2 linked regions of the Homo sapiens genome follow. Each later gene encodes a partner of the first gene's protein in a complex. Each region holds a gene or a part of one and is shown on either strand. Other genes may lie near its edges. A codon is read from its position in the direction of its gene.

Region 1 (11,258 bases):
ATGCCCACGAGTCCATCTGGGGAAGGAAAGGGACAGTGTCAGGAGCCCGGCCCCTGCGGAAACCCTGACCGTCCCCTTCCGCCAGCCCTGCCCCTCAACAGAGGCACACCCCTACCTGGAGTCGCAGGGCAAGGGGCTCTAAGAACTGGAAGGGGTGGGGCTGAGGGGCTGCCTGGAGGGGTTCATTTACAGAGAGACCAAAGTGCCCAGGCGTGGGGAAGAGCGGGGCTGAACAAAGGGGCCGAGGCTGTCACCTTTCTTCATGGCCTTGTCAATGAGCCGCTCCAGTTCCTTGGCCTGGTTGTTCTGGGGCTCTGTCTGCAGCAACCCGCGGACGTACTTTAAGGCCTTCTCGTATTCCTGCGCTCGGGGAAACGCGCACGCGTCATACACACCGCAGTGTTTTTTTGTTTGTTTGTTTTTTAATAAGAGACGGGGTCTTGCTCTGTTGCCCACGCTGGACGGCAGCGTCGCAATCACAGCCCACTGCAACCTCAAACTCCCAGGCTCAAGCAGTCCTCCCGCCTCAGCCTCCTGAGTAGCCGGGATTACAGGCGTGAGCCACTGGGCCGGCTACACCTCAGTATCCACCACTCCCCCTGCCCACGTGAAGGGCCTTCCCTTCTTCAGCCCTGGGGGCTCCTCCCTCGACCTCCACCCACTCCCTCCCTCCAGCCCCACCCCACGGAGTAGAGTCCACAAACAACCCCAACTCTGCGGGAGATAACAGCGCAAGGCTTGGGCCTGCACCCAGTCTCTTGACGTCACCTTCCTCCCCACCCCCTCGCCACTCTGATCTTCCCTCGGAGTCCTCATCTGACACCGCTCTGCACCTCTGCACCCCTTCAGCCTTCCCGCTGTCCAGGGCTCCACCCTGGAGGACACAGTAAGAAGGTCCTGCAGCCCCAGAGGAGGGTGAAGGGAACGGGGTCCCCACCTCACCTTGAGCCGGTAGTTCCCCACGGCCAGGTAGAAGACGTAATCCCGCTGTTCCTCCTTGCTCCCTTTGGGCAGCAGCTCTGGGGAGGGGCAGAGAAGAGGGTGAGAAATGCTTCTTTCCTAATACTTTCCTAATACTGTGTCCCAGAGGCCCCTTCCACTCTCTGAATGCCTCTGTGATCCTGGGAGGGTCACAGTCCTAAGCCTCCCTTTCAGCTCCAGTCACTCCCAGCACCCTAGCCAGAGCTCTGGGACAGGGTGAACCCCAGCTGTGCCAACACCCCAGTGACAGAACATGCCTTTTATCAGTATTACAGTCAACTGGTCCATCCAACTGAAATGAGGAAATCGGGGCCCTGGAGAAGCCAAAGGCAGCGTGACTCAGTTTTGGCATCTGCTGTGGTATTTTTTTTCAGACGGAGTTTCACTCGTCGCCCAGGCTGCGGTGCAATGGCGTGATCTCGGCTCACTGCAACCTTCGCCTCCTGGGTTCAAGCGATTCTCCTGCCTCGGTTTCCCGAGCAGCTGGAATTACAGGTGCCCGCCACCACGCCTGGCTAATTTTTGTATTTTCAGTAGAGATGGAGTTTCACCATGTTGGCCAGGCTGGTCTCAAACTCCTGACCTCAAGTGATCTGCCTGCCCTGGCCTCCCAAAGTGCTGCCGTTGTGGTTTTAACTAAACTGCCTGCTGTACAATTATTGTTTAAAAAAAAAAAAGTTAGGACTCCCTCCCCCTTTAAAAAAATCAGCTCAAAACTCACCTTCAATCAGCCTTCCCCGAAGACCCCACCTGACTTTGTCTTCCTTCCTTTTTTTTTTTTTTTTTTTTTTTTTTAAAGAGACAGGGTGGGCCGTGAGCCGTAGCTCATGACTATAATCCCAGCACTTTGGGAAGCTGAGCCGGGCGGATCACCTGAGGTCGGGAGTTTGAGACCAGCCTGACCAACATGGAGAAACCCCGTCTCTACTAAAAATACAAAATTAGCCGGGCGTGTTGGCACATGCCTGTAATCCCAGCTGTTCGGGAGGCTGGGGCAGCAGAATTGCTTGAATGCGGTAGGCAGAGGTTGCGGTGAGCCAAGATTGCACCATTGCACACTCAGTCTCGGGAAAAAAAAAACAAAAAACGGAGACAGGGTCTCGCTCTGTCACTCCAGTCTGGAGCACAGTAGCATGTCCATGGCTCACTGCAGCCTCAAACTCCTGGGGTCAGTGATCCTCCTGCCTCAGCCTCCCAAGTAGCTGGGACTATAAGCACACACCACCATGCCTGGCTAATTTAAACATCTTTGTTACACAGACAGGCCAGGTGGTCTCAAATTCCTGACTTCAAGCCATCCTCTGGCCTTGGCCTCCCAAAGTGCTGAGATTACAGGCATGAGCCACAGTGCCTGGCCCCACCTGACTTTCTTAATTCAGAGACTTCCCAGAGGATAACTGTACTGTATGCACTAGAATTTGTTGCTAAATAATTCTGCAGGTGTTTATAAATCTTCCTGTCTGTACTGTTTTCTCAACTAGACTGGCAACACTTAGAGAGGCTGTTTCTTCTACACCTACACCCTGCTGTAGAATAAACCTGAAAATCTGAATTGCCGAAGTAGACAAACATAGGGTAAAATTATTTGTATCTTTTAAGAAAGAGTCTTATTTTTATAGTTTTTTTTTTTTTTTTTTTGAGACGGAGTCTCACTGTGTTGCCCAGGCTGGAGTGCAATGGCGTGATCTTGGCTCACTGCAACCTCTGTCTCCCGAGTTCAAGTGATTCTCCTGCCTCAGCCTACTGCGTAGCTGGGATTAAAGGTGTGCGCCACCAGGCCCAGCTAATTTTTGTATTTTTAGTAGAGACAGGGTTTCACCATGTTGATTAGGCTGGTCTCGAACCCCTGACCTCGTGATCCGCCTGCCCTGGCCTCCCAAGGTGCTGGGATTACAGGTGTGAGCCACTGTGCCTGGCCATTTTTATAGATTTTCAATAGGCATCCTTTGCTAACACAGTCAGCATTCTGTATTCATAGATTCAACGAACCATGGATCAAAAATACTCAGAAAAAAAAAAAAGATAGTTGCATCTGTATTGAACATGAACAGACCTTTTTTTCTTGCCATTATTCCCTAAACAATACAGTATACTATTTACACAGCATTTACATTGTATTTGGTATTATAAGTAATCTACAGATGATTTAAAGTATATGGGAGAAGGTGCACAGGTTACATGTAAATACCATGCGATTTTATATACGGGACTTGGGTGGCTATTGGTATCTGTGGGGGTGGGGTTCCTAGAACCAATCCCCCATGGCTACAGAGGGATGGCTGTACACTGACTGTGTGCTTATAAATGATTATTTGAACACAAGGAGCTACAGAGAAACTAAGTGGTTAAGTATTGTGGCCTCTGACAAATGATGACCCACCTAAAACCAATAGGAAATAGGGTTCCCATCCAAAAAGCACTATCTGGCTGGACGAGGTGGCTCACACCTGTAATCCCAACACTGTGGGAGGCCGAGGTGGGCAGATCACCTGAGGTCAGGAGTTAGAGACCAGCCTGACCAACATGGTGAAACCCTATCTCTACAAAAAATACAAAAATTAGCTGGGCGTGGTAGTGGGCACCTGTAATCCCAGCTACTCAGGATGTTGATGCAGGAGAATTGCTTGAACCGGGAGGTGGTGGTTGCAGTGAGCTGAGACAGCGCCACTGTACTCCAGCCTGGGGGACAGAGCAAGACTCCGTCTCAAACAAAAACAAAAAACAAAAAGCACTATCTGCTCACAATTTTGTAGGACAGTCCTCTGTACCTCTTCCATGCCACAAAAGATTCTCAATAGCTGCTAAGCAACACGGTGGTGGTGTTGGGGGGAAGGGCATGGGCCTAGGTCTCACAAAACAGGAGCTTCTAGTCCCAATTCAGCCATTAACTGATTAGTTGGGTGACCTCAAGTCACTTTCCCAGATCAAGACAGTCCTGGGGGAACTGACATGCTACACTCTGTCTGGCAAAACAATGGTGGGCGGTAAGTAGCCAAAAGTTCACTGGGAGACGTCAAGCTAAGTATAGCCCTTGGTGCAGTAAATCTACCGGAGACAACTCAGAGGTGCCTGGACTACGGGGCCCACATCGCAGAGCAGCCCAGATGGCAGCGGGAAAGGGAGAGTACAGCGCCTCACCCTCGAGCAGCACGATGCCTTTACGGATGTCATCATTGTACTTGCTCCGCACCAGGCACCAGGCGTACTCAAACTGCGTGCTCTTGGACACCGAGCCTGCTGCCTTCTCAGACTGAAATTTCTTTTCAAACTTCTGCCACAGGGGAGGAAAGGAATCATTTAGAAATGTAGGGCGTCAACCATTCTCTATCTGGACATGCCATCTCCCTGGCTCTGCCCCTTTCCCTCGCAGGTCTCGGTATCTGGCACCCCAGCTTCTGCTATCTCCATGCCCGGGACCCAGGCTTTCGGCTCCTCCGGGCCTGCGGGCCAGCTCTTGGGACAGAGGCCCCCGGTCTCCCCTCCCCGCGGCGGTACCGAGCGGAGATGCCACCTGGTGGCAGCTCCAGGCACCGCTCCCGGAGCAGCTGACCCCGGCGGCCGAACAGTAAACACGCTGTCAGAACTGCTCAACAGCCCACGCGGTCCTCATTTGAGGCTGCTGGCCCCATCCTGCCCCACCCTGCCGGGCCTGGACCTTTTATTGTCCAGGAATAGAAGTAGTGCCTACCTCCTAGAGCTACAAAGACTGAGATCTGGCATGCGATGCCTTAGCACCGTGCCGGACGCAGTAATAGGTGACACCTTATGATGGTCACTGTATTCCTCCACCGCTGGAGGAGCGCCCTGAGCTCACAGCTCCTGCATGATCCCAGATCCCGTCAGTCTAACCACGGTCGGGCTCCAGGCCCGTAGTCTGAGGTGTGGGGGGCTCAGGACACTACAACTCCCAGGAGCCTCTGCGGCATAGCAGGCCCTCCGGGCAGGAGCCAGGCGCTGTGGAGGCTGCCGGGAGCCGTAGTTCGGCTTCCCTCGGCCAAGCCGATGCCGGGAGGAGGGTTCGGCCCCTACCTGACTCTCCTCAGGACCCGCCCTCCGACCTTCCCTTTCCCTCTGTCCGGGCCAGGCCTCACCAGCAGGTCCTCCACAGACACCAGCTCGTTCAGCACGGCCTCCATGGCCACTGCCCCCGCGAGCCTCACACTACAGTCTACTGTGCCACAGTCTCCATGGCCCAGTGGCAGGGGCGGAGAACCACTTCCGGCGTCCGGCGGATGCTGGCACGACCTGGCGACGCCCCGCCCCTTCCTCTCAGTTCAGCAGCGCCGGCGGGGCGCTAGTGCGCAGGCTCGGCCGGTCCCTCCAGCCCGCAGACTGCGCGCAGGGAGACCTTCCCCAGGTTGGTCTTCCCAGGTGCCTCAGCCGGTGCCTTCCTCTGTGGAGGCTTCCCTAGGGAAACTGGAGGCCATGTCTTGGCGGTTAGCCCCCAGGATGAAAACAGCAAAAAGAGGGTGGGTAGCTGACCAGAGATCACAGTACATTAGGGTGCCAAGCTGACGCCCCTCAGAAATCTAGGACCTTGGAGGCCACGTGACTATTCATCGCCTGCAACAAAATCTTAACTAGAACCGGGAGCCCGGCGCGTAGCTCACGTCCGAAGCCCAACAACTTGGGAGGCCGCGGCGGGAAGATCGCTGGAGGCCAGGAGTTCAAGACCAGCCTGAGCAACATAGCGAGACCCTATCTCTACAAAATTTTTAAAAAAATCAACCGGCGTGGTGGCGTGCACCTGTACTCCCAGCTACTGGGGCGGCTGAGGCAGGAGGATCGCTTGAGTCCGGGAGTTCGAGGCTGCAGTGAGTTATCGCGCCACTGCACTCCAGCTTGAGCGACAGAGACCTTGTCTCAAAAAACCCACCAACAGCAGCAAACTAGTATCGGGGTTTCTTGGGCCTCTGCTGACTCTCACAATGCAAGAGCAGAGGCAACTGGATCTGTAAACCACACAGCCACACAGGGGTAGTCATAGGAGACACTATCAACGGGAAGTTTTTCAAAAAGCAACGGCCCCATTATTGGCAGAGAAGGTCCAATTTTCAATATTATTTACATAAACCATTTTGGGAGTGCACCCCAGGCGGGAAACCTGCCACATGGGGTCACGGGCAATGGGGAGCTTAGCAGTGAGGAGCTATCAGAGCATGGGAAGGAGAAAGGTGTGGACACCTCTGGCTTCAGTTTCTGTGCAGTGAGGGGACTGGGTAAGTAGCAACTTTCAAATTCTTTTCCCCTTGAGTCACATTGGAGTGTAAGTTCCTTGAGGGCAGAGACTTACCTTGCTTATCCAGCATCTAGCACAGGGCTTGGCAGAGAGTGAGGGCTCAATAAATATTTGTTGAATAAACACGGAAAAAGCAAATTAATTGTAAACAAGGCACTGCACATGCAGGGGATAATCATCCAGACACCTTCCGCGTTTGCAAAGCCCCTTTAATTTTTATTATTTTTTAGAGACAGGGTCTCATTCTGTGGCCCAGGCTGGAGTGCATGCAGCGGCACAATCAGAGCTTACTGCAGCCTTGACCTCCTGAGCTCCTGTAATCCTCCTGCCTTAGTCTCCCAAGAAGCTGGGACTACAGGTGTGCACCACCACACCCAGGTTGTTTTTTGTTTTTTGTTTTTTTTTTCCGAGACAGTTTCTCGCTCTGTCACCCAGGCTGGAGCGCAGTGGCACAATCTCGGCTCACTGCAACCTCCGCCTCCTGGGTTCAAGCGATTCTCTTGCTTCAGCCTCCCAAGTAGCTGGGATTACAGGCGCCGGCCATCACACCCAGCTAATTTTTGTATTTTTAGCAGAGATGGGGTTTTACCATGTCAGCTAGGCTGGTCTGAAACTCTTGACCTCAGGTGATCAGACTGCCTCGGCCTCCCAAAGTGCTGGGATTACAGGCGTGAGCCACCGTGCCCAGCCAAGCCTCTAATATTTTTCTCCTCATAATAGTCTCGTGAGTTAGAAAGACAAGAGTTATTCTTCCCTATTTGGCGTGGATGGTTGAAATGACTGATACAGTAAGCTCTGTAAGCCTTGAGAGAATCCCCAGGTTGGGGAACTGGCTGCCCACTAGCATAAGCCTCAAGGGGAAAACTTCATGTTCATTCAGAGAAGTATACAGCACCTAATTTTGCCTGGGCCTTGGGGTGGCACAAAGGACACTAGGGCTGAGTGCAGTGGCTCACGCCTGTATTCCCAGCAGTTTGGGAGGCCAAAGCGGGTGGATCACCTGAGGTCAGGAGTTCGAGACCAGCCTGGCCAACATGATGAAATCCCATCTTTACTAAAAATACAAAAAATGCACCTCTGCCCAGCCGCTGTGCAACCTTCCAAGTGTGAAGTGACAGCCTTGTATGTGATCTTTCTGCCCTCCCCAAGTTTGCATTTTCAACATTAAAGTTTACTTTTTAATTAAAAAAAAAATATATATATATATATATGCACACAAAAAAAATTAGCCGGGTATGGTGGTGGGTGCCTGTAATCCCAGTTACTTGGGAGGCTGAGGCAGGAGAATCGCTTGAACCCAGGTGGTGGAGGCTGCAGTGAGCCGAGATCCCATCACTGCACTTCAACCTGGGTAACGAGAGCGAAACTCCATCTCTAAAAAAATAAAAAATAAAAAAGATGGACACGATATGAAGCAGGTGACTGAAAACAGGACTGAAGACGGGAGGCAAACACTGGCAGGGCAGGGGACACAGGAAGATGAAGGGGGCACTCCTTCTATTAGGAGGCTCCTTTTTGGGGGGCAGCCTGAACCACAGTCATGTTTATATTTGCTGCAGCCCTTGGTAGAGGCCTGGTGCATGGCAGAAGCACCATCAGGATTTGCTGAATGTCAACAAGGGATGAAGGGAGAGTGATTTACTCAGGTGGCTCAGTTGTGTGCCAATGAAGAGATCCGTAGTCTGTAGCTTTTCAAGTCTAGTTAGCATAGTCATCCACCTCCGACATAGTGATAGAAAGTAGTCCCTGTTAATTTTACACCCAATGGCTGAGCGCGGTGGCTCACGCCTGTAATCCCAGCACTTTGGGAGGCCGAGGCGGGCAGATCACGAGGTCAGGAGATCGAGACCATCCTGGCTAACATGGTGAAACCCCGTCTCTACCAAAAATACAAAAAAGAAATTAGCCGGGCGTGGTGGCGGGCGCCTGTAGTCCCAGCTACTCGGGAGGCTGAGGCAGGAGAATGGCGTGAACCCGGGAGGTGGAGCTTGCAGTGAGCCGAGATCACGCCACTGCACTCCAGCATGGGTGACAGAGCGAGACTCCGTCTGAAAAAAAAACCCTTTCATGCCTTCTCATTGCCCTTAAAACAAACACAGCCTTCAAGGTCCGTTAGGATCTAGCCATGCTTAATTCTCTTCCTCATCTATCACTACCTCTCCTGGTATGTACTATGTACACTGGCCCTATAGGCCTTCCTTCAGCTCTCAAACCCCTGGTGGCCACAGCTCCGCTACACAGGCAGTCCTCTCTGTTTGGAACATCTGTCTCCTCCTCCATTGCTTATTTGGCTCATTCATTCCCTCATGATTTAATTCATTCAAGAAATACTAATTGAGCTCCTGCTGTGTAGTAGGTGCTCAATTAGTTGCCTACAAATAGTAGCCTGGCACAGTGTAAGCCAAGGTGGAGCTTACATTTTCATGGGGAAAACAGAAAAAAATAACTCAACAAATAAAAGCACTGTGACATAATAAGACCTATATATTTGGGGCCAGGCCCGGTGGCTCATGCCTGTAATCCCAGCAGTTTGGGAGGCCGAGGCGGGCAGATCACCTGAGGGCGGGAGTTCGAGACCAGCCTGACCAACATGGTGAAACCCGTCTCTACTAAAAATATAAAAATTAGCCGGGCGTGGTGACAAGCACCTGTAATCTCAGCTATTGAGGAGGCTGAGGCAGGAGAATCGCTAGAACCCAGGAGGTGGAGGTTGCGGTGAGCACAGATCGCGCCATTGCACTCCAGCCGGGGCAATAAGAACGAACTCTGTCTCAAAAAAAAAAAATATATATATATATATATACATATATACATACACACACATATATATATTTGGTCTCTGCCCTGGTTCCCAACACAAAGGTCCTAAAATCCTTGTAATTTCCTGAGTGATAGAAGTAATAAGAGCATCTTTTTTTTTTTTTTTTTGGAGACAGCGTCTCACTCTGACCCCAGCTTTGACTGCAGTGGCGGGATCCTGGCTCACTGCAGCCTCGACCTCCCAAGTCAGGCGATTCTCCCACCTTGGCCTCCCAAGTAGCTGGGACCACAGGCACACACCACTACACCCGGCTAATTTTTGTATTTTTTTGTAGAGACGGGGTTTTGCCATGTTGTTCAGGCTGTTTTGTTGCCCAGGCTGGTCTGGAACTCCTGAGCTCAAGCAATCCGCCCGCCTTGGCCTCTCAAAGTCCTGGGATTACAGGTGTCAGCCACGGCGCCCGGCCAATAAGAGCATCTTACACAGAGCTCCAAAATCCCTTGCAACATCCTGAGTGACAGGAGTGCCTTTTCTTCTAATGAAGTGACTCGCTGGGCTCCTGGACAGCATCAGGATGAGGGCTGGTCACCAGGAAGACCAAGCCAGGATTTGAAGTTTAGCCTCTTAAGCTTGAACTTTTAGCCTCCCCCCTCATCCTTTGGGGAAGAGAGAGGAGCTGGAGATTGAGTTAATAATCGATCATGTCTACGTGATCAAGCTTACATAAAAAGCCCTTAACTTGGCTGGGCACAGTAGCTCACACCTGTAATCCCAGCACTTTGGGAGGCCGAGATGGGTGGATCATTTGAGGTCAGGAGTTCGAGACCAGCCTGGCCAATATGGTAAAACCCTGTCTCTACTAAAAATACAAACATTAGCCAGGCAAGGTGGAACGTGCCTGTACTCTCAGCTACTCGGGAGGCTGAGGCAGGAAAATCGCTTGAACCTGGGAGGTGGAGGCTGCAGTGAGCCGAGATTGCACCACTGCACTCCAGCCTGGGCGACAGAGCGAGATGCTGTCAAAACAAAACAAAACAAGGCAGGCGCAGTGGCTCACGCCTGTAATCCCAGCACTTTGGGAGGCCGAGGCGGGCGGATCACCTGAGGTTGGGACTTAGAGACCAGCCTGACCAACATGGAGAAACCCCGTCTCTATTAAAGATACAAAATTAGCCGGGCATGGTGGTGCATGCGTATAATCCCAGCTACTTGGGAGGCTGAGGCAGAAGAATCACTTGAACCTGAGAGGCGGAGGTTGTGGTGAGCCGAGATTGCGCCATTGCACTCCAGCCTGGGCAACAAGAGCGAAACGCTGTCTCAAAAAAAAGAAAAGAAAACAACACAAAACAAAACAGAACAAAAATTACTCCTCTGGGAAAATGATGAAAGAAAAAAAATGGAAGAAAAGGAAGACATGAAGATATTCATTCCTGCATTATCTGTGAAGGTAAACAAACAACAAAAATGCCAGGGAATGGTTTTATTAAATGATAATACATCAATATAATGGAATAATATACAGCCTTAAAGTCACAGTCACATGGATTCTATGCCTGTGGACAGTAATACTCAAAACAAAACAAAGAAGTATCTACTTCTCAAATTCAGACAGGTGGGTGAGCAGAAAGGAAACTGACATCTTAGGTTGGTGAGACTAAGACCTAGAACTGGTGTATATGGGCAGATTCTGGGCTCTGGACCCCTCCCTGGAGTACACCAGCAGCTGGGGCCTATTTTGCACTTCCCGCTTCAGCCTTTTGCACAAGAAGGGCTCAGCAAACACCCGCTGAACAGGATTCCATATTTGCGTTCTTCCAATTTTCAGTAATCTGTCTCCTCTACTTCCCAGTTCCATCTGCTATCCAGTTAGAAAGTCCTGTCAACTATCAATTAATTCATTCACCCATCAAAACATTTAAGAACCTACTATGTTTAGGAGGCTGAGGTGGGAGGATTGCTTGAGCTCAGAAGTTCGAGACCAGCCTGGGCAACACAGCGAGACCCCAACACTAAGTTAAAAATAAATACATAAAAATCTTACAAAAAGAACCTACCAGCCGGGCATGGTGGTTCATGCCTGTAATCCCAGCACTTTGGGAGGCTGAGGTGGGCGGATCACCTGAGGTCCGGAGTTCCAGACTAGCCTGGCCAACATGGTGAAACCCCATCTCTACTAAAAATACAAAAATTAGGCAAGCATGGTGGCGGGCACCTGTAATCCCAGCTACTTGGGAGGCTGAGGCAGGAGAATCGCTTGAAACCAGGAGGCGGAGGTTA
Region 2 (11,590 bases), on another chromosome or scaffold:
GCTCCTGAAAGAGCCGCTGTTAGACATATAGAGCTCCAGTTAAAAATATATTTATATTTGTCTCTAATGTAGAAATTGAGCCACGCCAAACCTACTGCTTTTCCCCATGCATCCTGAGACATCGTTTTAAGTCAATACACTAAGATGTACCCAAAGAATGCTCTTAATAGACTCCCATATGAGAGGAGCAAGGTATCACTGTATGGGTATCGAGGTTCTTTTTGTATGGTGGGTTACAGGGTCTCACTCTGTCACCCAGGCTTGAGTGCAGTGGCACGATCCCAGCTCACTGCAACCTCCACCTCTCAGCCTCCCCAGTAACTGGGACCACAAGTGTGTGCTACCACACTCAGTTAATTTTTTCTTTTTCTATTTTTGGTAGAGACGGGGTTTCGCCATGTTGCCCAGGCTAGTTTCAAACTCCTGAGCGCAAGCAACTGCCTCAGCCTCACAAAGTGTGGGGATTACAGGCGTGAGTCAGGGCACTGGCCTCATGGGGTTCTTAATTTCCGGTTTTAGGCTGCTTAGTTTTTATGTTGATCTTGCATTATAAAAATCTGCCCATCCCTCAGCACCACGAAGCGAGTACTCTCAAACGCTGTTAGCAGGGGTAAAAACAGCACACCTGTATAAAATGCAAAATGTTCATACCCTCGGGTTCAACAATTCACCTCTGAAATTATCCCACAGAAGTATTTGCATAAATTTGCAATGATTCGAAGATGCTTATAAAGAATGGATTACGGCACAACCACATGAGAGAATACTACATGATCTTTAAGAAGAATGAGATTGCTATAAAAAGATGTTGGCCGGACACAGTGGCTCATGCCTGTAATTTCAGCACTTTGGGAGGCCGAGGTGGGCGGATCACTTGAGGCCAGGAGTTCAAGACCAGCCTGGCCAACACGGTGAAACCTCGTCTCTACTAAAAATACAAAAAATTAGCCGGGCATGGTGGCGGGCGCCTGTAACCTGCAGCTACTCGGAAGCTGAGGCAGGGGAAATCGCTTGAACCTGGGAGGCGGAGGTTGCAGTGAGCCAAGATGGCGCCACTGCACTGCAGTCTGGGCAACAAAGTGAGATTCCATCTCAAAAAAAAAAAAAAAAAAAAAAGATGTCTAACGTGCAGCAGGTAGAAAAAGCACAATCCAAAGTATTGGCTAGGCTCTGCTATGGACAGCAGTCTTATCTCAGAGCTGTGCTACCAGCTCAGGCGTGGAATGCTCCTCCTGCCATGTCCCAGCAGGAATGTGGAAAGAAACATAAATACTTTGTGTGTATGATCCCACCGTTGTAGACATTTTATTAAAGATGTCAGCATACAAAACCCCTCTGGAAATGCACAACAAAATACTCATGATGGTTACCTGTGGGAAATGGGATTATGGGGAGTTTAACTTTCTAAATTCAACTTTTGAATTTTTAAGAATAATTACCCATTATTTTTGTAATCAGAAAAACAAGATAAACATGTTTCCTTACACTGTCACCTGCATCCAGGAACCCCACCATCCTAAGGACCACCTTGGCCAATGACCAATAGTGGGGATGGGGGACTGAGCAATACTAACCCAAGTCCCACAGTAGAAACCAGCCCTCCCTGTCTCGGGCCTCAGCCCAGGTGGGAAGATCCTGCACCCTCAGCAACTCCATCCTCCAGGAGGATCTGCTCAACCCTCCCCACCCCCAAGCAAGGCCACAGCTCTAGCTAGTTATGCCCCTTACCCTTCACTAGTACCTGTGACTAACACTTCTGTTTGAAGAAGGCTCTGCAGATCTTTCTAGATTATGCTTCTTAACATGGGAGTAGGAAGCAGCCAGTCATCATGGCCATATGTCCCCCTAGAACTTCCAAGCAGTTCCCCGATCCCAAAAAAGAATGAAGGCTTTGTCAACTACTGGATTCCGCAAAGGATCTCTCCAGCCCACTCAGCTGCTCTAGGAAAGAAACATACTCCTTCTGGTTTGGGGAAGGGGCAAGACCCTGAGGGAATCATCCTCAGCATGGTCCCTCCCCTCCCCAGTTATTACCCCCACCCCAGACCCAAAAGCCAAAACACACATGCTCAGTTCAAAAACTCAGTGGCCTGGGGATGACACATATATTACCTACCTACTCCTGGCTTGGAGGCTGCTCAGGGCGAGAACCCTGGTTAGAAAGAGCTACTACCTCTTGGGGCCTTGCCAAGTATTTCAAGAACACTGAGGTGCTCAGGCAGCTGGCACCTACCCTATGTGGTTGGAAGCTGTCAGGTAACACTTGGCCTGTTCAGAGGCAGTCCAGCCTGAACATATCCTATCAGGCTCTGAGACATCAGGAAGGAGAAATGCCTAATGCTGAAGCTGGTGGGTGAGGCTTTGCACATTCCCCTGAACCACAGCCCCCCACCCGCTCAGTGTTTCTGCTGGGACTCGGTGGGAGGAGTGTTCCACGCCTAGGCAGGCACCACAGCTCTGAGACAAGAGTGGTGTCCACAGCAGAGCCAAGCCAATACTTTGGAGCCCAAACAGGGGGACATATCGATCACTTACCACAGCAAAACAACAAACATCTACCAGTCAGACAAGAGCTTTATTGATTCTTGTCTCCAGATGGTCACCCTACCACCTCATTGCAAAATGTCTGCCTTTCATCTTACCACCACCTGGCCTGGCCTTATCCCAGAGCCTGCTTGCCCTTGGACCAGTTTATCTTTCAAGCACCTGCTAGTGTACACCTCAATGTCAGAGTTTACAGAACTACAGAGCTGGAACGACCTGGGAAAACCTCAAGTCTAGCCCAGATGCAGAGAGGTCTAGGATCTCTCCCCAAGATATGCTGCCACACATCTCTGTGTTCTCCTCCTACTACTACAGGGAATGGCAGGACTTCACTGTGTGCTTGGTTGCTCAGTCCCCCATTAGAGGCCCTGCTCCAGGCAATTCTGCTGTTTAAGTGACTGGTGAGCAGCACTACTCAGACCAAGGTCACAGGCCAGTTAGCTTCTCTTGGCTTCAGTTCTAGAGTGACCTGAGGAGCAGCCTCAGAAACCTTAGGCGTCCCTCCTTCCAAGGTCTTGAAAAAAAGCAATGTAAGGTGGCCGTCATAAGCTGCATACAAACTGCTTGGTATAAGCCCACGCCCACTGCTAGAGGGGCCTCTTTTTTTTTTTTTTGAGATGGAGTCTCCCTCTTGTTGCCCAGGCTGGAGTGCAATGGTGCGATTTAGGCTCACTGCAACCTCTGCCTCGTGGGTTCAAGCAATTCTCCTGCCTCAGTCTCCCAAGTAGCTGGGATTACAGGTGCCCGCCACCACGCCCAGCTAATTTTGTATTTTTCGTAGAGATGGGGTTTCACCACGTTGGCCAGGCTGATCTCGAACTCCTCATCTCAGGTGATCCACCGACCTCAGCCTCCCAAAGTGCTGGGATTACAGGCATGAGCCACCATGTACGGCCTAGAGGGGCCTCAAAGTGAAGAACCGACTAGCGGTCAGCAGCATGGGCAAAGGGAGCCTCTTCCCTCCCTCAAGAGAAAGACACAGCATTTCATTGGTCTGTCTCCTAGCAGCCAAAACTGGATGCTACACATCAAAAGTGGCAAAGGGTTTTGCAGCAGAGACCAGGGTCTAGGTCAGGTAGCTGCCCTCAGCCATAGCTCACTCACCGATGACCAACAGCACAAGGATGACAATGAGAACCACAAAGAAGGTGTTGCCATAGGACACTAACAACTCCACCAGCCGGGACTTGAAAATCTTCTGCCATCTGTGAAGAAGACAAAAAGGACAGGAGTTGAAGAGAAAGCACACACACGAGCTCTAGGGCCCTGAGCAAAATGGAAATCCAGCTTTGTACTCTTCTCCAATGGCCGAATAGCCCATGCAAAGTCAGCCTCAGTGGCTTGCAATTCTCTAATTTGACATCCATTCAAGACTATTGGAAAAAAGGCCAGGTGCAATGGCTCACACCTGTAATCTCAGCACTTTGGGAGACCAAGGTGGGTGGATCACTTGAGGTCAGGAGTGCAAGACCAAACTGGCCAACATGGCGAAACCCTGTCTCTACTAAAAGTACGAAAATTAGCCAGGCGTGGTGGTGGGCACCTGTAATCCCAGCTACTCAGGAGGGTGAGGCAGGAGAATCACTTGAACCTGGGAGGCGGAAGTTGCAGTGAGCCGAGATCGCGCCACTGCACTCCAGCCTGGGTGACAGAGCGAGACCTTGTCTCAAAAAAAAAAAAAAAAAAAGATGCTGGTCCACGTATAGATCAAAATGTCTGGAAAACTAATCTTTTTTTTTTTTTTTTGAGACAGAGTCTTGCTCTGTTGCCCAGGCTGGAGTGCAGAGGTGTAAGCCACCGCGCCCAGCCTGGAAAACTAATCTTAAACGTGGGCAGTTGGCTGGGCGCACTGGCTCACGTCTGTAAACCCAGCACTTTGGGAGGCTGAGATGGGCAGATCACCTGAGGTCAGAAGTTCAAGACCGGCCTGGCCAACATGGTGAACTCCCATCTCTACTAAAAATATATATATAAAAAAAAATTAGCTGGGCATGTTGGCAGGCACCTGTAGTCCCAGCTACTCGTGAGGCTGAGGCAGGAGAATTGCTTGAACCCGGGAGGTGGAGGCTGCTGTCAGCCGAGCACCACACCACTGCACTCCAGCCTGGGTGACAGAGCAAGACTCTGTCTCAAAATAAAAACAAAAACAAACAAAAAAACCACAACAACAAAAAGAAAACATACTGGTAGTCTCTGAAAAGGGAAACTTACTTTTCATTGTACTCCCCTTTGTAATATTCAAATGTTTGCCCCATACACGTTATTTCTTTAAACTGTCTTTCCACATGATAAACCTTGGTTTGTCTATATCCCCCGACCCTGTTATGATGAGATGGACCCCAGACCTCACATCATTTCCATCCACAAATGCTTTGGGATGCAGCTCTAAGAAGAGACTTCAGAAGTGTTTACATATTGTTCAAATCAACAAGAAGCCCTCATCATCAGGGCTAGAGTTGAATATGCCAATCACTGAAGGCAATGATATTTGTTTGAATCCGGACCCAACAAGGTACCGATTTGGCATTCGGTAGATAAACGTCTTAAATCCAGCTTATTCTGGAAGCTCCCCCTTCCCTCTCCCTCTTTCATTTGCTTTTCCAGTTTCCTTTGTGTAGAAATCAGATTGTCTGTCCTCTAAAGCTTCCCAGATTAAAGCTCCCCGGGGCCCTCTATCTCTGCACGTCTTGTCAACTGTACGAAGGTGTGGTTTTCTACAAGAATCCTCCTCAGACAGCACTGCATACTTTCTATGGTATCACATCAAAGATAATTTTTCACGAAAAAACGGCTTTTAAAAATACCTGTGGAGATTTGGCCTTATTTGTAATATCGTAATTTAAATAGGGATGTGTTCAGGTATTATACATAATTAAAATTAATCTCCAATTCACTTTTAACAGGTCCTCTGTTCATTAAAAGGGAATATGGCTTCATCCTCCACAGGCTGAGTAATGTTCATGCAGCCACTGCGCAATACCAGTGAGACTAGTTAGGAGGACAAGAGTCACCAAATCAGCAACAACGTGACCCAGTGGTGCAAGTCTTCCGAATCCCACGCTACCATCCCAGCACCCCGTGGACCAAGAGTGGGTGGGAGGGCATCATTTCCAGAACTGTAACATAGATCTTCCTGCCTCTCGGGGGCATTCTGAAGACCAGAAGGCAGGGGACACAGGAAAAGGAACTGAGCAAGTCATGACGAAGCAGAACCCTGGGAAGGGTTGGCAATAACAAACACAACCCCTGCCACCCCCACCCCAGACAGGTTCTACCTGTTCCATCGGGTCCCAATTCCAGGGTCCACCAGCTGCACACACCAGTCCCAGGGCTAGGGCACAGGCACCCTCCTGCCTAACTCGCCTGCTTGCTCCATAGGCCATACCTTTTAGGAGAAATGAAGGGAATGCAGAGAAGCAACACAACAAAGACCTCCGCATAGAGGAAGGTGGCAACTGCAGTCCACTGCAGACTCATCCTGTTGCTAGAAGGTTTCCCACAGGAAGATGTGAGCTTGTTTCCTGGCAGGGCACAAAAGGTACGGGACTTGTAAGCGCTGGGCAGCCAAGAACATCCAGTTCAGTTACCCTGCGAGGCTGGGGCCGCCACTCTCCACCCTGACCCCCTGCACTTTGCTTCAAAGTCTCTGATGCGCTGGCGGAAGCAGGGCTCCACTCGGCAGGGCCTCTTGGCCAGCAGCGTTCACAGGCCCCACAAACTTCCGTTCGCTGGTCAATTACCTGCCCCCTCCAGCACGTGTGTCAACACGTCCAGAGCGGCCTCTCCCGACGATCCCTGCCCCAGGAAGCCCGAGATTTCCGACGCCCGTTTAACTGAAAGGCGTTCTTCGGGAAGAGCAGTGCCAGGGCACCAAGAGGAGGACGCCTCGGCACCCATCGGGCGCTCCCTTCCCCGCCAGGCAGAACTCAGCCGCAGAGGCGGGCGCTCTGCGGGCCCAAATCCCCGCTACCAGGCAGGCCCAAGGCCGCACCTAGTCCAAGCGCTGCCGACGCCCCCGCCTCCCACCGTCCCCACGGCGCCCGCGGAGAGAAACCGGCACCTCCCTCGAGGATCCAGCGGCCTTCCGCCCGGGGCCGCTTCGCCTCCGGTGGGCTGGAGGCCCGCAAGAGCGACTCCTAGAGGGCAGGATTCGGGACCAAGCGCAAAGGCAGGTCTCGACCAAGCACCTCAAGGCCCCATACGGAGAAAGTTCTAGACGCAGTATCCTCAGAAGCCAGGGGTCCTTACAGTAGCCCTCGCGGGCCCCAGCGCCCACCCAGAGCGAGGGGCCTCCGACTTGGCCCCGGCCTGGCACACCGTCCCGGAGGCCCATCCCGGCCGCTCCTCCAGGTGGGGCTTCACCGCCCCCCGCCCCGCCCCCGAGACCAGCTTCTAGAGGCGCCGCCCGGTTTCCCCTCGCCCCTGCCTCTCACACGCAGGTAGGCTGCGGGCCCCGAGATTCCCCGGCCCCCGGGCCTCCCCGCGCCGCTCGCCTCTCTCCCTCGTCGATGGGCCGGGGAGCCTCCGCGGTCCCGGAGCCCAGCCCGGCGCGCGGAGCCCGCTCACCGAGTTTCCCACAGTCAACGTGCAGGCCCCGCCGCAGCAACAGAACTCTCCCACAGCAGCCCCGGCCCCGCCCCTCATACCGCGGCCGGAAACCGGAAGCGCCCGCCGGGCACCGCCCACCAGCCCTCGCGAGGCCCCGGAGGCTCCGCCCACCTCCGCTTCCCACCCCGCCCCGGAGCGGAGGGCCGGCGCTCCGAGCGGGAGAGGAAGAGGCGCCTCGGGCTCCGGGCGAGCAGGGCGGGGTGGAGCGAGCACGCGGGCGGGGCGGGGCGGGGCTTTGTCGGGCCGGCGAGGGCCGCTTCTCTAGTCCGCGCGGCCGTCCCACGTCTCTGTGGTGCGGGAGGGGCCCCGCCGAGGGGCGAGAACGGGAGGTGGGGGTGTGGGCGGGCCCCGCCGAGGGGCGAGAACAGGGTGGGGCTCCCGCGCCCGGACTCCGCCCCTCGCCCCTCCTCCGCCTCCTCCCCTTCCCCCGACTCGCCCCTGGGGAAGAGTGGGTGGGGATTCTGGGCCGGTGGAGGAGTCACTGTCGCTTCAGCCAGGCTGCGGAGCGGACGGACGCGCCTGGTGCCCCGGGGAGGGGCGCCACCGGGGGAGGAGGAGGAGGAGAAGGTGGAGAGGAAGAGACGCCCCCTCTGCCCGAGACCTCTCAAGGCCCTGACCTCAGGGGCCAGGGCACTGACAGGACAGGAGAGCCAAGTTCCTCCACTTGGGCTGCCCGAAGAGGCCGCGACCCTGGAGGGCCCTGAGCCCACCGCACCAGGGGCCCCAGCACCACCCCGGGGGCCTAAAGCGACAGTCTCAGGGGCCATCGCAAGGTTTCCAGTTGCCTAGACAACAGGCCCAGGGTCAGAGCAACAATCCTTCCAGCCACCTGCCTCAACTGCTGCCCCAGGCACCAGCCCCAGTCCCTACGCGGCAGCCAGCCCAGGTGACATGCCGGTGCTCTCCAGGCCCCGGCCCTGGCGGGGGAACACGCTGAAGCGCACGGCCGTGCTCCTGGCCCTCGCGGCCTATGGAGCCCACAAAGTCTACCCCTTGGTGCGCCAGTGCCTGGCCCCGGCCAGGGGTCTTCAGGCGCCCGCCGGGGAGCCCACGCAGGAGGCCTCCGGGGTCGCGGCGGCCAAAGCTGGCATGAACCGGGTATTCCTGCAGCGGCTCCTGTGGCTCCTGCGGCTGCTGTTCCCCCGGGTCCTGTGCCGGGAGACGGGGCTGCTGGCCCTGCACTCGGCCGCCTTGGTGAGCCGCACCTTCCTGTCGGTGTATGTGGCCCGCCTGGACGGAAGGCTGGCCCGCTGCATCGTCCGCAAGGACCCGCGGGCTTTTGGCTGGCAGCTGCTGCAGTGGCTCCTCATCGCCCTCCCTGCTACCTTCGTCAACAGTGCCATCCGTTACCTGGAGGGCCAACTGGCCCTGTCGTTCCGCAGCCGTCTGGTGGCCCACGCCTACCGCCTCTACTTCTCCCAGCAGACCTACTACCGGGTCAGCAACATGGACGGGCGGCTTCGCAACCCTGACCAGTCTCTGACGGAGGACGTGGTGGCCTTTGCGGCCTCTGTGGCCCACCTCTACTCCAACCTGACCAAGCCACTCCTGGACGTGGCTGTGACTTCCTACACCCTGCTTCGGGCGGCCCGCTCCCGTGGAGCCGGCACAGCCTGGCCCTCGGCCATCGCCGGCCTCGTGGTGTTCCTCACGGCCAACGTGCTGCGGGCCTTCTCGCCCAAGTTCGGGGAGCTGGTGGCAGAGGAGGCGCGGCGGAAGGGGGAGCTGCGCTACATGCACTCGCGTGTGGTGGCCAACTCGGAGGAGATCGCCTTCTATGGGGGCCATGAGGTGGGGCAGGTTGGGGTGCCGGGCACGGAGGGAAGCGTGTGGCAGGGAGGCCCGGGGGCAGGCAGCCGTGAGCGGTGGGGACAGTCTGGGGCGGGCCGGGGCTGATGCCAAAGGTGTGGGCAGGCCATGGGAGAGCCGGGCTGGGGTGGGCAGGGCCTTTGGGCAGCCGTGGACTCAGGCGCGGCAGTGGAGAGGCAGGAAGGCTGGGTGGGGACTGTCCTGTGCTGGTTGCCTGCACGCTCGAGGCCACTTCTGCTTCCTCTCCTCCTCAAGGAGGTTGTCCTGGCCTTAGAGCTGCGATCCTAGCGGTTTGAGCCTCGAGAGCTCCTGCCCGCCCCACTCCTGCAGCCAGCCAGGAGGAGACGCCTGCCATTCATGAGCGGGGACCGAGGGACGCAGCCTGCTGCCTAGCCCCTCCTGGGCCCTTGGGCCCTTTGAAGGCCGGCGTCCAGCAGAGCTGGCTGGCCAGGCAGGCCGGCATTATGGGCATGACTCAGCCCAAGCGGAGGTTAATGAGCAGCGCCCAGCACAGCAGTGGGACTTGGGGTCAAGGCCACCCCCGCCTGAGCCCACAGGCCTGCCTGGCTACCAACTGGCTCAGCTGCCTTCCCGGGCCCCCAGACCAGAGATGCCGGGCCCAGGCCGCCACTGCGGCGGGACACACTTCCTGCTCCTGGCGTGGCTGTCCTTCCAACCCTGTCTGTCTCCTGGCTCCCTGGTGGGCCGGGGCCGGCGGGCCAGACAGGCGCTGGGAAAGGTTACTCCAGGTCAATGCTCCCTTTATCTCGCCTCAGCCCCTCCCCTTCCTCGTGCCTGGGGTTGCAGCTGCCTTGGGCCCTGCTCTCTGCGACTCAGTTTCGGTTCCCCAGTGCTTCTTGGGAGGAGGGGCACAATGGCATCCATCCCCCGAAGGCCTGTGTGTGCTCCCTGGGTCAGGTGGCCTCTTGCCCTGGGACCTTGTCTCACTGGCTGTGCACCAGCAGAGAAGCAGGCTTGTCCCCGAATTCCACGGAGAGGGGCATCCCGGGTGTGGGCCAGACTGCAGATTCAGAGAAAAGGCCCCTGGACTTCAGCCACCACCCTGGCTTCCCTCTCCTCTTCTCCCGCATGCTGGGCTGCAGGGCCTTGGCAAGCAGCTGCAGCCTTGGGCGAGGCGCTTGGCACATTCCCCGCAGCTACATTGTCAGCCTTGGCTGGCACCCCTGCCAGCTCCCAGCACGAGTCTGGATTGCCAGGGTGCTTGCTTCAGGAATGGGAGATCGGGCTTGCAGGGAGCTCAGCTGTGCAGGCCGACCTGGGTGGCGGGGGCAGAAGAGAGATCACTGGTTCTTTGAAGGCCTTCGTCCGGGCTAGCTTCAGGAAGTAGAGAGATTACTGGTTCTTTGAAGGGCTAGCTTCAGGAAGTAGCACGTTGGCCAAGAGGGTTTGTTGGCCAGGGCAGGAGGGCCCGGTGTGCATTCACGGCCTGTCTGCATAGGCCTCGGCTGGAAAGCTGTGTGGGGTGAGAGGACCCTCGGGTAGCATGTGGCCCATGGCAGTCCCACTGGCTGATGTCCCCGTGGACACTGGCCTAGGCTCAGATCAGGGCAGAAGCAGCTGACTGGCTGGAGGGCACATAGCAGAGTATTCTGTCCTTTCTGGGATTGCCGCGAGGAGGCTTATTGAAACGCACATGCACACGATCTCTTGTTTGAGAACAAAGTAAAGCTCTCTTGATAAGTCTAAGCATCATTTACAAGAATGTGGTTCTTCTGGCAGCTCTGCCAGTGTGGTCCAAATTCCCACACTGGTTGCCACCATCAGGCTGTATGGGCTTGGGCAGGTCACTTTGCCTCCCTGGGCTTCAGTGTTCTGTGTACAGTGGGCACGTGAATACACATGCAGTGGGATGTGGGGAGAATCAAATGCAGAGACGTGAAAGCACTTGGCAAACAGTGGCAGGCTAGGCAGCTGTCATCAGACGGCTGTGGGGAGGCAAGGCTGGGGTGCGTGCCCCTGGACTGAGCCCAGAAATTCACAACCCCTTGGCTACCTTGCTGGGAGCACTTCCCAACACCTCCCATCTCCCCCGCCTGTCTGACTGCTGCTGCCACCTCTTCCCTGCGGCTGTCCCTTTCCCCACCTGCTGGTGTCCTGACATAGTGGTGGCCAGTGCAGGAAGGGGGACAGAAGGACAGGGGAGGCCTACCCACTGCTGAGGGAGCAAGGTCCAGGCTCAGCAGTGGGGACATCCACTGGGGCGAGTCCTGTAGGGCCCAGCTCAGGAGCGCATCCTCCTGGTTTCAGTGGGAAAATGCCATGCAAATTTCTCACCAAAAGGAAGTGTGGGAAAGTTGAGGGGAAAGAGGGCGTAAATAGGCCCAGACTGTTGAACCGAGTTTTTCAGAACCAAGAGACAGGGTTTCACTGTGCTGCCCAGGCTGGGGTGCAGTGGCGCCATCACTGCAGCTTCAAACTCCAGGGCTCCCGCGATCCTCCCACCTCAGCCTCCCGAGTAGCTGGGACTACAGGTGTGTGCCACCACACCTGGCTAATTTTTTTTTTTAATTATTTTTGGTAGAGACAGCATCTCGCCGTGTTGGCCAGGCTGGTCTCCAACTCCTGGGCTCAGGCAATCCTCCCACCTCAGCCTCTCAAAGTGCTGGGA

The links.
Region 2: the proteins of FIS1 (region 1) and BCAP31 are in contact, whole or in part, in a crystal structure (PDB 8XWX), measured with the Homo sapiens proteins. Residues at the interface, in NP_057152.2 of Homo sapiens: Arg52 (codon at 4,144), Val56 (codon at 4,132), Glu59 (codon at 4,123), Glu60, Pro63, Lys64, Lys89; in NP_001132913.1 of Homo sapiens: Asp224, Leu227, Glu228, Ala231, Lys232, Ala235.

The regions. Positions count from the first base shown.
Region 1 is NC_000007.14:101,239,888-101,251,145, forward strand, and holds the start of FIS1 (mitochondrial fission 1 protein), read right to left. Parts: upstream 5,195-11,258; 5' UTR 5,118-5,194; coding exon 5,073-5,117; intron 4,253-5,072; coding exon 4,120-4,252; intron 1,020-4,119; coding exon 943-1,019; intron 361-942; coding exon 255-360; intron 17-254; coding exon 1-16. UniProt on the Homo sapiens protein: Involved in the fragmentation of the mitochondrial network and its perinuclear clustering. Plays a minor role in the recruitment and association of the fission mediator dynamin-related protein 1 (DNM1L) to the mitochondrial surface and mitochondrial fission.
Region 2 is NC_000023.11:153,717,224-153,728,813, forward strand, and holds the start of BCAP31 (B-cell receptor-associated protein 31), read right to left. Parts: upstream 7,165-11,590; 5' UTR 7,111-7,164; exon of another isoform or gene 6,978-7,110; intron 6,905-6,977; exon of another isoform or gene 6,442-6,904; coding exon of another isoform or gene 6,285-6,441; intron 6,066-6,284; coding exon of another isoform or gene 6,022-6,065; coding exon 5,930-6,021; intron 3,750-5,929; coding exon 3,649-3,749; intron 1-3,648. Other genes in the region: ABCD1 (ATP-binding cassette sub-family D member 1), read left to right, coding at 8,044-8,943. UniProt on the Homo sapiens protein: Functions as a chaperone protein. Is one of the most abundant endoplasmic reticulum (ER) proteins.